2 separate regions of the Homo sapiens genome follow, and region 2 is linked to region 1. The links come from fine-mapping of genetic effects on gene expression. Tissue or cell type: whole blood. Region 1 holds a variant in brackets; the other region holds the start of a gene. All regions are shown on one strand. Distances are from middle to middle.

The links. PIP is the estimated chance that this variant, and not a neighbour inherited with it, causes the effect.
Region 2: EPB42 starts here. The variant in region 1 is fine-mapped to the expression of EPB42 in whole blood (TOPMed, PIP 0.95).

What each region holds. Positions count from the first base shown.
Region 1 is chr15:42,513,300-42,521,403 of GRCh38, forward strand. SNAP23 (synaptosome associated protein 23) reads left to right here. Exons shown (of 8, transcript NM_003825.4): 4 at 100-148; 5 at 1,938-2,055. Among named protein-coding and RNA genes, the nearest start is that of SNAP23, 22 kb to the left of the region's middle. RefSeq lists a silencer at 4,839-5,039. The variant A/G (reference allele first, on the strand shown) is at 4,141.
Region 2 is chr15:43,217,416-43,225,519 of GRCh38, forward strand. It overlaps EPB42 (erythrocyte membrane protein band 4.2), which reads right to left and starts at 3,603. Exons shown (of 13, transcript NM_001114134.2): 1 at 3,401-3,603. The coding sequence starts at 3,410.

The DNA of each region.
Region 1 (8,104 bases):
CTTGGGTTTCTAAATTATTCTGTGTTGCTCTTGTAGGTTTTGTTTCTGTTGTTTTTGGTTTGTTTTGTTGTACTATCAGCTTTTCCCCCCTTGTCTTAGTCTCAGGATGCAGGAATCAAGACCATCACTATGCTGGATGAACAAAAGGGTAAGTTAAATTATTAGCAGAAATTCTTAATTTGACTGTGATGCCAAAAAGCCCTATCAAATTAGCCACATACAAATTTCAGCCTTTGGGAGAGCCTTCCCTTTGTAAAATAAGAATGTTATGTTTACTTCTTGTCTTCTGATTTGAATTATATATCATGTTCACTGTCTATTTGGGATGGCAGGCAACAATGCCCAATTGTATATACCAAGTATGTGTTAGGCCAGCATGGCTTATTTTGTGTATTGGTTATATGTGCCTTAGACATTATGATAGTAACATAGCTGGGATTACAGGCACCTGCCACCACACCCAACTATGTTTTTCTTTTTTTTTGGGGTGGGGGACGGAGTTTCGCTATTTTTGTCTAGTTTTGGGGGTGGGGGATGAAGTTTCGCTCTTCTTGCCCAGGCTGGAGTGCAATGGCGTGATCTTGGCTCACTGCAACCTCCTCCTCCTGGGTTCAAGTGATTCTCCTGCCTCAGCTTCCTGAGTAGCTGAGATTACTGGTGCCCACCACCACACCCGGCTAAGTTTTTGTATTTTTAGTAGAGACGGGGTTTTACCATGTTGGCCAGGCTGGTCTCGAACTCCTAACCTCAGGTGATCCACCCGCCTTGACCTCCCAAAGTGCTGGGATTACAGGTGTGAGCCACCGTGCCGGGCCTTTTGTTTTGTTTTGTTTTGTTTTTTTAATTTTTATTTTTTGAGTCGGAGTCTTACTCTGTCACCCAGGCTCGAGTGCAGTGGTGCAATCGTGGCTTACTCCAGGATCCTCTACCTCCCACGTTCAAGTGATTCTCCTGGCTCAGCCTCCTGAGTTGCTGGGATTACAGGTGTCCACCACCACACCCAGCTAATTTTTTGTGTTTTTAGTAGAGATAGGGTTTCACCATGTTGGCCAGGTTGATGTCGAACTCTTGACTTCAAGAGTCACTTGATCCGCCCACGTCGGCCTCCCGAAGTGCTGGGATTATAGGCGTGAGCCACCGTGTCTGGCCAGACATTGTGATATTCTTACATCATCCTCAGAAATCAAGTTCTAAAACAGATCTAGATTCAGGTATGCTTGGAAACACTTGAGTTGAGTTGGCCCTGAGTAATCAGGTCTAGTTTTTATTACTCTTATAATAGCCCTCAGGTTTTGAACCTATTATAGAAATGATGGGGATTTGACCTCGTCAAAGTACCCTTAACTTGGTTGTAAGGATGATCTCTAAATAACCGTCCCTTGGTCCTACTATACAAGATTCTTTTTTTTTTTTTTTTTTTCGAGCGGGAGTCCCACTCTGTCATCCAGGCTGGAGTTCAGTGGTGCAATCGCAGCTCACTGCAACCTCCAACTGCCGGGTTCAAGCAATTCTCCTGCCTCAGCCTCCCAGGTAGCTAGGATTACGGCACCCATCACCACACCCAGCTAATTTTTGTATTTTTAGTAGAGATGGGGTTTCACCATGTTGGCCAGGCTGGTCTTGAATTCCTGACCTCAGGTCATCGCCCACCTCGGCCTCCCAAAGTGCTGGGATCACAGGCGTGAGCCACCATACCCAGCCATATACAAGCTTTTTAGAACAAATTTTTCCACAGCAAGAGGCTAGGTGCCTCCGGATCAGTACGTGAAAGATTGTTATCATGTTGAATCGCTTCTAATACCTTTTGACACTGACATACTCACTGTGGGGAGTTATTGGTAGATTCAAGGTTGAAGTTTGCTGTTCCATAATAATAGCATTTTCTGGTTGACACTGTGAATGGAACACAAAGTGTTAACTTCACAACTTATTCTTAGAACAACTAAACCGCATAGAAGAAGGCTTGGACCAAATAAATAAGGACATGAGAGAGACAGAGAAGACTTTAACAGAACTCAACAAATGCTGTGGCCTTTGTGTCTGCCCATGTAATAGGTGAGTTGATAAATTAAGATGGTTTCAAAATAAGTAATGAGAGTACCCCACCTTCTCCCACCAGCTAAGGTCAGAAGTATGACTGGGCTTAATGAGGAACTCTATTAGATAAATCTAAGTTGTCTCTCCTTCAGGCAGATTAAGCTTTTTGTGTAAATACTGCGTGTTCACTGAAAACTGTGACTTACATTTGACCAATCCTGGGATCAAGTCCAATTTCAATTTGTAGTAATACATGAAAAGGTTAGGAAGTATAGGGAAATGTATATCTGGATGATGGAAAGCAGGATGGAGTTATTTTCTTTTCCTTTCAAAGGAGGAGTATTAACAAAATATATATTTTGTGGTAGGCACATGAGGGATGGCCAAAAGAGTAGAAGAGTTGGGAAAGAATGGCAAAACATAAAAAATACATAAATCTAATGTTAGATTATATGATAGTGAGCAAGGCTAAATCTAATGTTAGATTATATGATAGTGACCAAGGCTAGGTATACAGAACTGATAAAGGTTGGGTTGGAGAGCATCTTATAGAAGAGGTAGGATGTGGATTGGGCTTTGAGTGATAAGAAGGATTTGGATGAACAGGGAGGAACAGTGAGGGCATTTCCTATGAAAGGTTCAAAATAAAGATTAACAAGGAGCTTGACTTAACTGAGCTGTGTGACTCATGTAGATGAGAAGTGGAAAGTAAGATATAAGTAGGTAGTAGAGGAACTTGAATGCCAAACTAAGGAGTTGACAGATTGGAGTGGAGTATAAAAAGAAACGACAGTATCTGGAGATTGAATGACTGTACTCACTGCTGAAAGTTTTGTTTTGTTTTTTTTCTGAGACAGGGTCTCTGTTACTGAGGCTGGAATGCAGTGGCGTGATCACAGCTCACTGCAGCCTCTCTTTCCTGGGCACAAGAGATCCTCCCACCTTGGCCTCCCAAAGTGCTAGGATTACAGGCATGAGCCACTGCACACAGCCAAAGTATCCTTTTTTTTTTGAGACGGAGTCTCACTCTGTTACCAGGCTGGAATGCAGTGGCGCAGTCTCAGCTCACTGCAACCTCCGTCTCCTGGGTTCAAGTGATTTCTCCTGCCTCAGCCTCCCGAGTAGCTGGGACTACAGGCGCATGCCACCACACCCAGCTAATTTTTGTATTTTTAGTAGAGACGGGGTTTCACTATGTTGGCCAGGATGGTCTTGATCTCTTGACCTCATGATCCGCCCGCCTTAACCTCCTCAAGTGCTGGGATTACAGGTGTGAGCCACCACACCCGGCCTCAATGTATTCATTTTTAAAGAGGTTCTTAGACATTAATATTTCATCCAGTTCTCAGCTGGTCTTGTAAACCAACAGCGGTTATATTTTTATATTTTCAGTAAGTGTTTTTATGAAACAACATTTTTATGCCATTTCTGTTATAGAAAGTAGAGATTAATTGCTTGTCAGTCAACTTTAGTGTTTGTTTTGGCCATGAGGAAAGGTTTGACAGTGTTCTTCCTAGTCTTATCCATTGGCTTCCTATTCTAACACAAGTCTGTTGACCTGTTTACACCTTGGTTGACCAACTGAAAGTTCTGTATTTTTTGAGACGGAGTCTCGCTCTGTCACCCAGGCTGGAGTGCAGTGGTGTGATCTCGGCTCACTGCAACTTCCACCTCACGGGTTCAAGTGATTCTCCTGCCTCAGCCTCCCAAGTAGCTGGGATTACAAATATGTGCCACCATACTCAGCTAATTTTTATATTTTTAGTAGAGACAGGGTTTCGCCGTGTTGGCCAGGCTGGTCTCAAACTCCTAACCTCAGGTGATCTGCCCGCCTCTGCCTCCCAAAGTGCGGGGATTACATGCGTGAGCCACTGCTCCCGGCCAAAAGTTCATATTTTAATAACTATGACTTGTCAATCAGAGTTTAGCAGATTACTTTAAGCAAACAAGTTAAAATGTACAGATTATTTGATACAAACTCTTAGCTATGTTTTACAAACATAATTGTACCTTTCTCTTGTGTTCCATGTACCTTCTTGGAAGAGTACAGAAGAGAGGAAGTAGATGAATTTTCTTGAGATCAGATGTTAGGAGAACAAGGAG[A/G]AAGAAGTCTCCCCTAAAATCTTAGAGGAAGATCAGCTCTAAGTCACGTGTTGATAAATAGGAAGAGCACTGAATTAGACCTAAGATGGTCTAATATCATAGAAAGTGGGAAATGCAGCTACAGAGTATTAATTTTATGTCTCTTTGTGTATCCCAGCCAAGCATAGGCAAGCTTTTCTTGAAGACTGGTGGGAAACAAGGTAGGGTATGGTCCTGAATCAGCATTCTTCAGCCTCTAACCTCAGTAGAACCCTTTCTCAGTGGATCAAGAGAAGGCATTACTTTTTTAGAGATGGCCTCTCCCTCTGTCTCCCGGGCTTGAATGCAGTGGTGCCACCATAGCTCACTGTAGCCTCAAACATCTGGGCTCAAGCAATCCACCCACATCAGCCTCCCAAGTAGCTAGGATTACAGGTGTGTGCCACCATGCCCAGCTAATTTTTGAAATTTTTTGTAGAGACAGGGGTCTTGCTATGTTGCCCAGGCTTGTATCAAACTCCTGGCCTCAAGAAATCCTCCCACTTCAGCCTCCCAAAGCACTGGGATTACAGGCTTAAGCCACTGCACCCAACTGGCACTTCTTTCTTTTTTTTTTTCTGGCACTTCTTGAGAGATGGAATCAAGGGGCTGCTGTAACAAAACAGTTCCCTTAAGAGAAGAAAGTATTATCTCAGTTAAAGATGTCTGATTGTAATTGTCTTTCTTCCACCTATTTCTTTCTTACACCATTGAGACCTTGGCCAGTATGATATCTCTTATCCTCAGCTCTGTTCCTATCATTCTTGCCTGTGTCTTGATCTTTCTAATCTGCTAGTCTGTGTTTCAGTTAGGCTCGTCACATGAATAACCATAACATGAGCTTCTTAAAGGTAGACATGAGATCTTAGTCCTATGTGTAAGGCCTAGTCTTCATACCAGCAGTAGCAGTAACAACCCAGGTCAGGTCCAGAGTTCCTTATTTGCCATTTGGAAATACTTTTTCTTTTCTTTCTCTTTTTTTTTTTTTTTTTTCTCGAGACAGGGTCTCGCTCTGTTACCCAGGCTGGAGTGCAGTGGCAGTCATGGCTCACTGCAGCCTCAACCTATCCTCCAGCGTCAGCCTCCTGAGTAGCTGGGATTACAGGCACATGCCACCACACCCAGCTAATTTTGTATCTTTTGTAGAGACAAGGTTTCACCATGTTGGCCAGGCTGGTCTTGAACCCTTGGGCTCAGGCAGTCTACCCACCTTGGCCTCCAGAAGTGCTGGGATTGCAGGCATGAGCCATTAAGCCCTGCTGGCCATTCAGAAATCTAAAAAACTCCTAAAGTTTTGTTTTATTTTTGCTGTAATGGTGCCACAACTCATTAGGGTATAAAATGTAACCTGAACTGAAGCTATGTTTAGTCTTTATTACTTGCTGTAGATATTAATTGGTTTCACTACAGAAATACTCTTTTTGAGTCAGGGTCTCACTCTGTCACCCAGGTTGGAGTACAGTGGTATGATCTTGGCTCACTGCAGCCTCGACCTCCTAGGTTCAAGTGATCCCCCCACCTCAGCCTCATGAGTAGCTGGGACTACAGGTGCATGTCACCATGCCTGGTTTGTTTTTAAAAACTTTTGTTTCTTCTTCTTTTTTTTTTTTTTTTTGAGACGGAGTCTCACTCTGTTGCCCAGGCTAGAGTGCAGTGATGCAGTCTCAGTTCACTGCAACCTCTGCCTCCTAGGTTCAACCGATTCTCCTGCCTCAGCCTCCCAAATAGCTGGGATTACTGGTGCCTGCCACCACGCCCAGCTAATTTTTGTATTTTTAGTAGAGATGGGGGTTCACCATGTTGGCCAGGCTGGTCTTGAACTCCTGACCTCAGGTGATCCGCCTGCCTCGGCCTCCCAAAGTGCTGGGATTACAAGCATGAGCCACCATGCCTGACCCTGTTTCTTTTCTTTTCTTTTTCTTTTTTTTTTTTGAGACAGAGTTTTACGTTGTCACCCAGACTGGAGTGCAGTGGTACAATCTCGGCTCACTGCAACCTTCGCTTCCTGGGTTCAATCGATTCTCATGCCTCAACCACCCAAGTAGCTGGGATTAGAGGCATGCACCAACACCTTGCTAACTAATGTATTTTTAGTAGAGACGGGGTTTTGCCATGTTGGCCAGGATGGTCTTGAACTCCTGACCTCAAGTGATCCACCCACCTCGGCCTCCCAACGTGCTGGGGTTACAGGCATGAGCCACCGTACCTGGACTTTAAAAAGTTTTTGTAGAGATGAGTTCTCACTATGTTGCTCAGGCTGGTCTCAAACTCCTAAGCTCAAGCAATCCTCCCACATTGGCCTCCCAAAGTGCTGGTATTACAGAAATGAGCCACCACACGCAACGTCACTACAGAAATATTAATGTATTTAATTATGTGGTACTGTCCAAAACATCTTGCCCCCAATGGATTGGGGTAACAGTTGTGGGCCTGTGCATTAATTTAAGGTACTATTCTGAACATGTTAATTTAATCCTTAAACAGTAGCCTTAATATGAGATAGATGTTTTTTATTATTATCATTTTACATCCAGGCTACACTATGTAGTGGAAGAGCTGGGATTCAAAACCAGGCAGAACCCCCTTGCTTTTTTTTTTTTTTTTTTTTTTTTGAGACAGAGTCTTGCTGTATCACCAGGCTGGAGTACAGTGGTGTGATCTCAGCTCACTGCAACCCCTGCCTCCCAGGTTCAAGTGATTCTGCTGCCTCAGCCTCCCGAGTAGCTGGGATTACAGGCGTGCACCACCACGCCTGGCTAATTTTTGTATTTTTAGTAGAGATGAGGTTTCACCATGTTGGTCAGGCTGGTCTCGAACTCCTGACCACGTGATCCATCCACCTCGGCCTCCCAAAGTGCTGGGATTACAGGCGTGAGCCACCGCGCACAGCCCACAAATCCTTTTTTAAAATCACATATCTTAGGCAGTAATTGATAAATTGTAATTCTAATTAACAAGAATTTGAAAGCAGACAGATTTAAAATGGGAAGTCTCAGAATAGTAAACTGCTTGATGTCCCAGTTTAAACATTCTTTTTTTTTATTTTTATTTTTTTGAGATGGTGTCTCGCTCTGTTGCCCAGGCTGGAGTGCAGTGGCACGATCTCGGCTCACTGCAAGCTCCGCCTCCCGGGTTCACGCCATTCTCCTGCCTCAGCCTCTCGGGTAGCTGGGACTACAGGCGCCCGCCACCACACCTGGCTAATTTTTTGTATTTTTAGTAGAGACGGGGTTTCACCGTGTTAGCCAGGATGGTCTCGATCTCCTGACCTCGTGATCCGCCCGCCTTGGCCTCCCAAAGTGTTGGGATTACAGGCGTGAGCCACCACACCCGGCCTTAAACATTCTTAGATAAGGTATTCTTCTGTCTTAACTTGCCTGTTTTATAAAGTCTAACAATGGCACATAGTTTGAAGACAAATTGGCATTTCTGGACCACTTACTAGAGAAGTTCCAAATTGGCACTACAGGTTTACTGCTATTCCGATCTTAAGTCATACCAAGGTGTAAAAATTCAGCTCCGACTAATTAAAATGAATATTGAATTATATTTCATTCAGTGGTTTAGTGCTTCTTCCATCCTGCTCACTGGAGACACAAATATGAGTAAGGCATACCTCTGGCCCTGCCTGTTTTATTTATCATGACATGATTTTTTATACCTCACATAGTATTGGATATACAGTAGTTACTCAATAAACACTTGTTGATTTGAGTGTCCTTGAGAAACTTGTTGGCTGGTGGGAGAGTTTGACGTGTAAAAAGATTTTTTAAAATTACAATGAAAAAATATATAAGAAAATAAAATACATAATAGAAGTCATTAAGAGAAATCTTAATCACTAAGAGGAAGGAGTCTCAAAGCACTCCATTGGTTTTTGCCTTCTCTCATATTGTCTAATTTTAGGAAAGAATATCATCACCCAAAATTCTGAGGAAAAATGAAA
Region 2 (8,104 bases), 700 kb after region 1:
CCCCATCTCAGGTATGTCTTTATAGCAGTGTGAGAACCGACTAATACAAGAGGGAAGAAAAAAACAAGGAGTAGAGAAGTCAAAAGATATGTTCAGCAAGCGCAAGATAAGGAACAATGCTGGAAAAAAAGTTGGTTTTTTTGTTTTGTTTTGTTTTTGCAGCAAAGGAATTGTGTACTTTTTGTTCCTTTAATAGCAGAAGGCCATTGGGAATCTCCTTGGTCTGAAAGGCAGCCTGCAGTTTTTGCACTGGCTCAACTGCCACAAGAGAGAAACTATGGCTTTTGCTCACAGGTATGAAATGAGGTCTAACCCACTTCAGGGAAGTGATATGACCCTGATAGCAAGGTCCTTTAGACTACAAGACGGATCTTGTCAAATTCAGGATACTCCTACTTCAAATTTTCCTCAATTCCCAGTCTCTCTGACTTAGAGCTGAAGAGTAGAGGGGAAGGATGTTCTACTTTTCTTTCACTGGTGATGGGGATGATAGAAGATGCCAATGATGTCTATTTAGGGCAAAAGAACTGACATTATTGAATATGAAGAAATGTGAAAGTGTGCAGAGGAGGGAAGGAACCTCTCTGTGTCTGGTCCTCATGTCCCTGGGTGCCCCTTGCATCCTTGTATCCCCCTCCTCCACTTGGCTTGGTCAGGCCATGGCTATAGATAAAGTAGCCATGGGGAGGCTGGGATTTGTAAACTGAAGTACAGCAGCACTCAGAAACCAAAAACGATTCCTCTTTCTGCTTAGCACAAAGCTCGTGCTGGGGCCCAGGGTAAGCCCTGCCTCTGCAGACTGGTTGAGTTGGATTGGATGGTGGAATGCCTTAGTCACATCCTAAGTCATATGACTTGAGCCTCCGTGTATCCGAACCCACGTAATGACCATAGTGTTACGGCAAGAGTCACTAGAATTCATTTGGATTCTTGTTCTGTCTAGAAGGCTCCCACCATCTCTTCTCTACCTGGCAGATGTCTACTCATCTTCCAAGATCCAAAGGCACCCACCTCTGTAGCCTTCACTGACTCCTCCTGGCAGAGGTCAGTCCTCTGGACTCCCACAGTACTCTGCTCCACTTTCTTCAGCACTTATCCCATTTGATACCCATCACCTGCTTAGTCCTCTGCTCCCCTTTTCACTGTGAGCTCCCCAAGATACAGTGCTTTCTCATATCTGCATCCTCTGTCCCAGCAGAACTCAATAGATAGCCAATCAGTGTTTGCTCCGTCAATGAATGGATGAGAACATTGAGACGGCCTTAAAGGAGATTTTCTCAGATACATCACAGGGGCCTCAGGCCCCCACCTGTGCTGCCAGACCCTCGCAGGGCCCCTGAGGTTTCTGCATTCTTTAGGTCTGCCTGGTTTCTTGGTTTATCTCTGCCTCTGCCCCTTTTAGGTGGATTCATTGACTCCTGCCTCCCCTTCTCTCCCACTGGGTCTTGAGGCAATGATACCTTCGTGTTTTCTCACCATCTCCTATTTGTACCACAGCCCATGAGAAGTTGTGTTAACCCGGAGATCATGTGGAATGCTCTTCAGAGGTGCACAATACCCCACCCTCCTCCCTCTCTGCCTTTCACAATACCCCAGAGCTGCCTCAGATGTGCCCCTCAAGCAGTTCTGTGTTTAACGACTGGCTGGGGGGAGGGGGCGGTGAGGGGAAAGGGCGTACTGAGTTACAGCATTTGCCAAGTTCTGTTGTGTAAACTACGCCCCCTGTGGCCAGTCTGAAGCTACTGAGGTGATGTCAGCAAGCGCAGAGCTGTGAAGAGGCGCGGACTGGCACATCATCATGTGGTTTTTCCAGCACAGAGATACAGGAGACATAAACGCCCTCAAGAACATAAAGGTAAAAAGGAGTAAAATACGTAGGAAGTGATGAGTTTAGAGTACTTATTATCTTTCTTTTTAATATAAATTTTTTACTTGTAAGTTTATACAATTTAATTTTTAATAATGCCTGTGTTTAAGAACTGGTTCACAAGGTTCCTCAAAATTTAGCAATTGGCTCTTGCAAGTCAGCACAAGCCAGCTCCAGCCACTGCAGCATGTCATGAGTTCATACTCAGTGATTCTCATCTGGTGGCTACTGGGCCCTCTGCCACCCACTGCCTGGAAAGAATTTAGTGCCCAGGGGCATCCTCTGGTTTGGGACTAGACTAAACAATCTCCTGATATCTTTGTGTTTCTCTGATTGAGTAGATTTTAATTTGTCTGGTCTCTACAGAATAAAAAGAACGATTTGGCCAGGCGCAGTGGCTCACGCCTGTAATCCCAGAACTTTGGGAGGCCGAGGCGGAGGATCACGAGGTCAAGAGATCGAGACCATCCTGGCCAACAAGGTGAAACTCCGTCTCTACTAAAAATACAAAAAATTAGCCGGGCATGGTGGTGGGTGCCTGTAGTCCCAGCTACTCAGAAGGCTGAGGCAGGAGAATCACTTGAACCCAGGAGGCGGAGGTTGCAGTGAGCCGAGATTGCGCCACTGAACTCTAGCCTGGTGACAGAGAGAGACTCCGTTTAAAAAAAAAAAAAAAAAGGACAATTTATTGGTGTCTGCCCTATTTTCACAAGACGTGGCTGAGATTATTGACTTAATTCACCCAGAGTTCTTTTTCTTCCCTTCTCAGCTGTTGGTCTCAGCGTCAGTTGCCCTCCGCACACCAGACCAACCAGGGCAGGGGAGTGAGGCAGTTTCTATAGCAACAGAACCACAGCTGCACCCCACTGTCCCCACACCTCTGCACCATTTCCCTCTGCCTACCCGCTTGCTTCTCCCAGGACACAAAACAGCCAGGCAATTCCCAGGCCAGGATATAATAATTCCTGCCAAGAGTGCTGCGACTCTGACCACCTGTGTTGGTTTCTTGCTTTGTGTCTGCCTCTGCCCCTTTTAGGTGGATTCCCTGACTCCCTCCTCTCCTTCTCTCCCATTTGGTGTAGAAGCTGTGACACCTTCATGCTACCCAGGGTGTCTCTCATTTGTATCAGTAAGCTGTGAACACTTATGCTATGATGACCTTGGGATAAGAATATAAATCCATGTTAACCACCATCACCATCTCACCATCATACAACTATCATGACCAGTTTACCCCAACATGCTACCCCATAACCACCCCACAGCAACATCACCATCACCTCCGCCTCCGCCTCCACCAGCACCCATCATCACACCACGCTCCACAGCCAGCTCACTATCACCTCTACCAGCACCCACCTACCACACCCCCCCCCCACAGCCACCTCATTATCACCAGTACCCCCTCCCCCACCATAGTTATACCACCATCTCCCCGCCTACCATCCATCCCACTTCCTTTAATGAAAACAGGTGATGCTGCGGGGGCTGCATACAGTCCAGCAAGCCCTGTCGAGCGCTGGCTTGGCTCACCCTGTCCCATGGTTGCAGGCCGCTCCTCTTATCCACTTGGCCGCAGAAAGCGCCTCTCTCAAACTGTTGCTTCTGGGCTCCTTCTGGGCTTTCTGTCTTCCAGACAGAAAATATGAAGGCACTTTTGTTGGCTTAAGAATCTGGAAATAGCAAAACCTCCCCCCACTACTCCTGTGAGCACCCTGACATGTTTCTTCTCTCCTACTCCCTCTCTGCTGGTATCTCCTGGACCAGTTACTGGGAGTAACCCTGTTCATTTTATCTCTTGTGCCAGGAGGCCCAGGCAGGAATACGCCTGGCAGCCCTGGGGGAGGGGGTGGGATGGGGAAGACCTGCCAACTAGAGAAGCCTAGAACAAACCTTGAAGCCTCTTGCTTCAGTGGTCTCAAGAGACTCTCAGAGATGTTATCTGGACTGCACTGGAAGACTCTGGAAGAGAGGAGGCCACAAACAGGAGTCCCATATCCAACTCCAAATCTCAGGCCCTAAACGTGACAGGGGCTGCAAGTTGCAAGATGTTCATGGGCTGTTTTGATAATAGAGAGAACACGTGCATCTGCAATTTATCTGTGTGAAAAAGATAAGGAAGTAGAATTTGTTGGTGAAAAATAAATGTATTAAAAGTAGAAGCTGGGGCCCCAACTCTTCCAAGCCTACCTGGTCTGGGACCCTCTACCAGAGAAGGTTGGGAACTATCTTGGGACTCAGGCCCTATGTCTTTTCAATTTTTCTTTCTTTAGTTCCTGAAGAGACAAGAGAAGGATCTCATATTTGGCCCTACCTGGGCTTGTGAAACTGTGTTACCAGAAGCACTTTCAGGGCAGCTGTACTTGCTGCATATACATGAGACGTCTATAGAATGATATAAAACACACTGCCAAAAATATTGGTTGCCTGTGGGGAGGGGATCTGGGCAGTGGGGTAGAAAGGTTATCTTTCTGCTGTTTACTCTTTTATACTTTTAAAACTTTGAACTTTTGAACTCATTTGAAGGATCTTATTATGTAAAAAAAAAAAAAAAAAAAAAAAATGAAACTTCTGCCTTTCACTAGCGCAGTGGCTCATGCCTGTAATCCCAGCACTTTGGGAAGCCAAGTCAGGCGGATCACCTGAGGTCAGGAGTTCGAGACCAGCCTGGCCAATATGGTGAAACCCTCTCTCTACTAAAAATACAAAAATTAGCTGGGCGTGGTGGCAGGCGCCTGTACTCCCAGCTACTCAGGAGGCTAAGGCAGAAGAATTGCTTGAACCTGGGAGGCTGAGGTTGCAGTGAGCCAAGATCGTGCCACTGCACAGCCAGCATGGAGCAAGACTCCATCTCAGAAAAAAAAAAAAAAATCCTTCATAAGAAATGAAGAAGTTAATTTTTCATTATTTGAAGATGTCATTTTTTACCTGGAAAACTTGAATCTACTAACAATGATTATAAAAGGTAATTTAGTGAGCTGGCTAATACCAAAAGTATAGAAGCCAATAGTTTTCATACCTGCAATCAATAACAAGTCAGAAACTGTAATTAAAGACCCAACCTATAATAGCAACAACAACAAAAGGTGAAATTTCTAGAAATAAACTTAAGAAATGTGAAGTGCTGTCAGTAAAACACTTGGAAACGGTATGGAGGGACACCAAATAAGACTTGAGCAGATAAAAAGGAAGATCACCATCCTGTGTAGGACAACTCAACTTTATAAAGCGGTCATTTCTTCCCAAGTTGATCTTAAGTTTAATTCATTCCCAATAAAAACACCAAGATTGTTTTTTGAAACTAGGTAAACTGATTCTAAGGTTCAAAAGGAAATTTCTAAGATAATAATAAAGTGTGACCAGCCTTCCTAGATATGAACACATAATATGATATTACTGTAATTGAAAAGTCCATAGATCAAAATACATGTATTAAATGTATGCTAAATGTGGCACTTCAAATCCATGGGGAAATGAAGGATTTATCAGTAAATGATTTTGGGACAACTAGCTTGTCAAAATACAGTTGGCTTCCTATCTTATGCCACACATCAAAATAAATTTCAGATGGATCAAAACTCTTATTAAATTCTTAAAGTAATAGAAGAAAAAATGAGACACTTCTTCTTAAGTTAACTTGGGAAAACCTTTAAAAATATTATGCAAAACTCAGAAGACAAAAAGAAAATACTGAGAAATTTGATTCCTTAAAAATTTTTAAATGGAAATATTCACAATGTTAAAAGATATGCAGATGGGGCACGGTGGCTCACACCTGTAATCCCAGAACTTTGGGAGGCCGAGGCGGGTGGATCACGAGGTCAGGAGTTTGAGACCAGCCTGGCCAACTTGGTGAAACCCCATGTCTACTAAAAATACAAAAAATTAGCTGAGCGTGGTGGCATGTGCCTGTAATCCCAGCTACTTGGGAGGCTGAGGCAGGAGAATAGCTTGAACCCGGGAGGTTGGAGGTTGCGGTGAGCTGAAACTGGGCCACTGTGCTCCAGCCTGGGCCACAGAGTGAGAATCCGTCTCAAAAACAAAACAAAACAAGATATGCAACAAGTTGGGTAAAATATTTGAAACTCATATCACGAAGGATTAATCTCCTTAATATAAAAGATGCCTATAAATCAATAAGAAAAGAATAACAAACTATTAGAAAAATGAGTAAAGGATATGATAGACAATTCACAGAAAAGGAAATAAAAATGTCTATCAATTCCATGGAAAGATGTTCAGCCTCATTTAATAAAAATGCAAAATAAAAACACCCTGAGATATCATTCTTTCTTCACCTATTAGATTGGCAAAGATAAAAGAGTTTGACAACATTTTGAGTTGGTGATGTTTTAGGAAAATAGTTGCTCTCTTATAATACTAGTGGGAGTGCAAATTTAAATTGGTGCAGCCTCGGCTGGGCGCGGTGGCTCATGCCTGTAATCCCAGCACTTTGGGAGGCAGGTGAATCACTTGAGGTCAGGAGTTCGAAACCAGCCAGGCCAAGATGGTGAAAACCAATCTCTACTAAAAATACAATAATTAGCCAGACATGGTGGTGGGTGCCTGTAATCTCAGCTACTCAGGAGACTGAGACATGAAAATCGCTTGACCTGGTGGGTGGAGGTTGCAGTTAGCCAAGATCATGCCACTGTATTCCAGCCTTGACAACAGAGCAAGACATTGTCTCAAAAAAATAGAAATAAATAAATTAATTAATAAATAATTGGTGCAGCCTCTCCAAATTTGTGCAGCCTCTACGGAGAGTGTTAGTCAGACTGGGTGGCTTAAACAACAGATATTTATGTTTTCACCCTTCTGTAGGATGGAAGTTCAAGATCAGGGCCTTTAGGCTTGGTGTCTGGTGAAGGCTCTCTTCCTCACATGCCCTCTTCCCTGTGTCCACGCGGAAAGAGAAAGATCTCTGGTGTCTTTTCCTTTTCGTCTTCTTATAAGGACATCATTCCTATTGGATTGAAGCCCATTCTTATGACCCCACTTCACCTTTATTACCTTCTTATAGGTCCCATCTCCAAATACAGTCACATTGGGGGTTAGGGCTTCAACATATGAATTTTTGGGGAGGACACAATTCAGTCCAGAACAAAGGGAAATTAAGTGGTTTCTACCAAAACTTTAAATGTCTATACTTTTTGCTGCTCTGCCTATGGATTAGCCATTCTTTATTCCTTTACTTTCTTAATAAACTTGCTCTCACTTAAAAAAAAAAAAGTCTATACTTTTGATTCAGCCATTCTACTTCTAGGTATTTATCATACAAATGATCAAACAGGTGTAAAATGAAATTTATACAAGTATATTCAAGGCATTGATATTTATAATAGCCAAATACTAGAAACTACCTAAACATCCATGCATAAGGTATTAGGTAGATAAATTATGGAACATGCATTCAATAAAATACATAAAGGTGAAAAAGAATGAAGTAGCTCTATATAAAAGGATGTGGAACAATCTCCAAGCTTGATTTGTATGTTTGTTTATTTGTTTTGAGACAGGGTCTTGCTCTGTCACCCAGGCTGGAGTGCAGTGGTGCAATCATGGCTCACTGCAGCCTCAACCCCTGGGCTCAAGTGATCCTCCCACTTCAGCCTCCAGAGTAGCTGGGACTACAGGCATGTGCCACTACATCTGGCTAATTTTTATTTTTTGTAGAGATGGGGTCCCACTATGTTTCCCAGGCTGGTCTTGAACTCCGGTGCTCAAGTGATCCCCCAGCCTTGGCCTCCCAAAGTGTTGGGATCACAGGCATGAGCCACCGCGCCCAGTCCAAGCTGTATTGTTAAGTGGAATAAGCAAGGTAGAGAACAATGTGAATAGTATACTATCTTTGTGTAAAGGGTATGTGTGCGTGGGGAGAATATATATGAATTTGCTTGTGTTTATATAGACTATTTCTAGAAAATTATTGCTTCTAGATAGAGACATCAGTGCCTAGGCACAAGGCTTTTTTCTATATACCCTTTGTATCTTTGTGCCATGAACTTGTATTTATGTGTTAATATTTTTAAAGTAACAAAAACTTTTAGGGGAAAGAAAAGTCTGGCTGAAAGAACTATTTTCACCACAGAGGGCCCCTTACCTAGGAGAGCAATGGGGAGGTTGTGGGCTGGTCTCCCTTTGGGGAATGTGTTCTCCTTCTGGTTCTAGCAAAGAGAATCTTCTCTTTCCCGGTACAGTTCCCATGAGAGCTTCACAGAGATCCAGTCTCTGGCA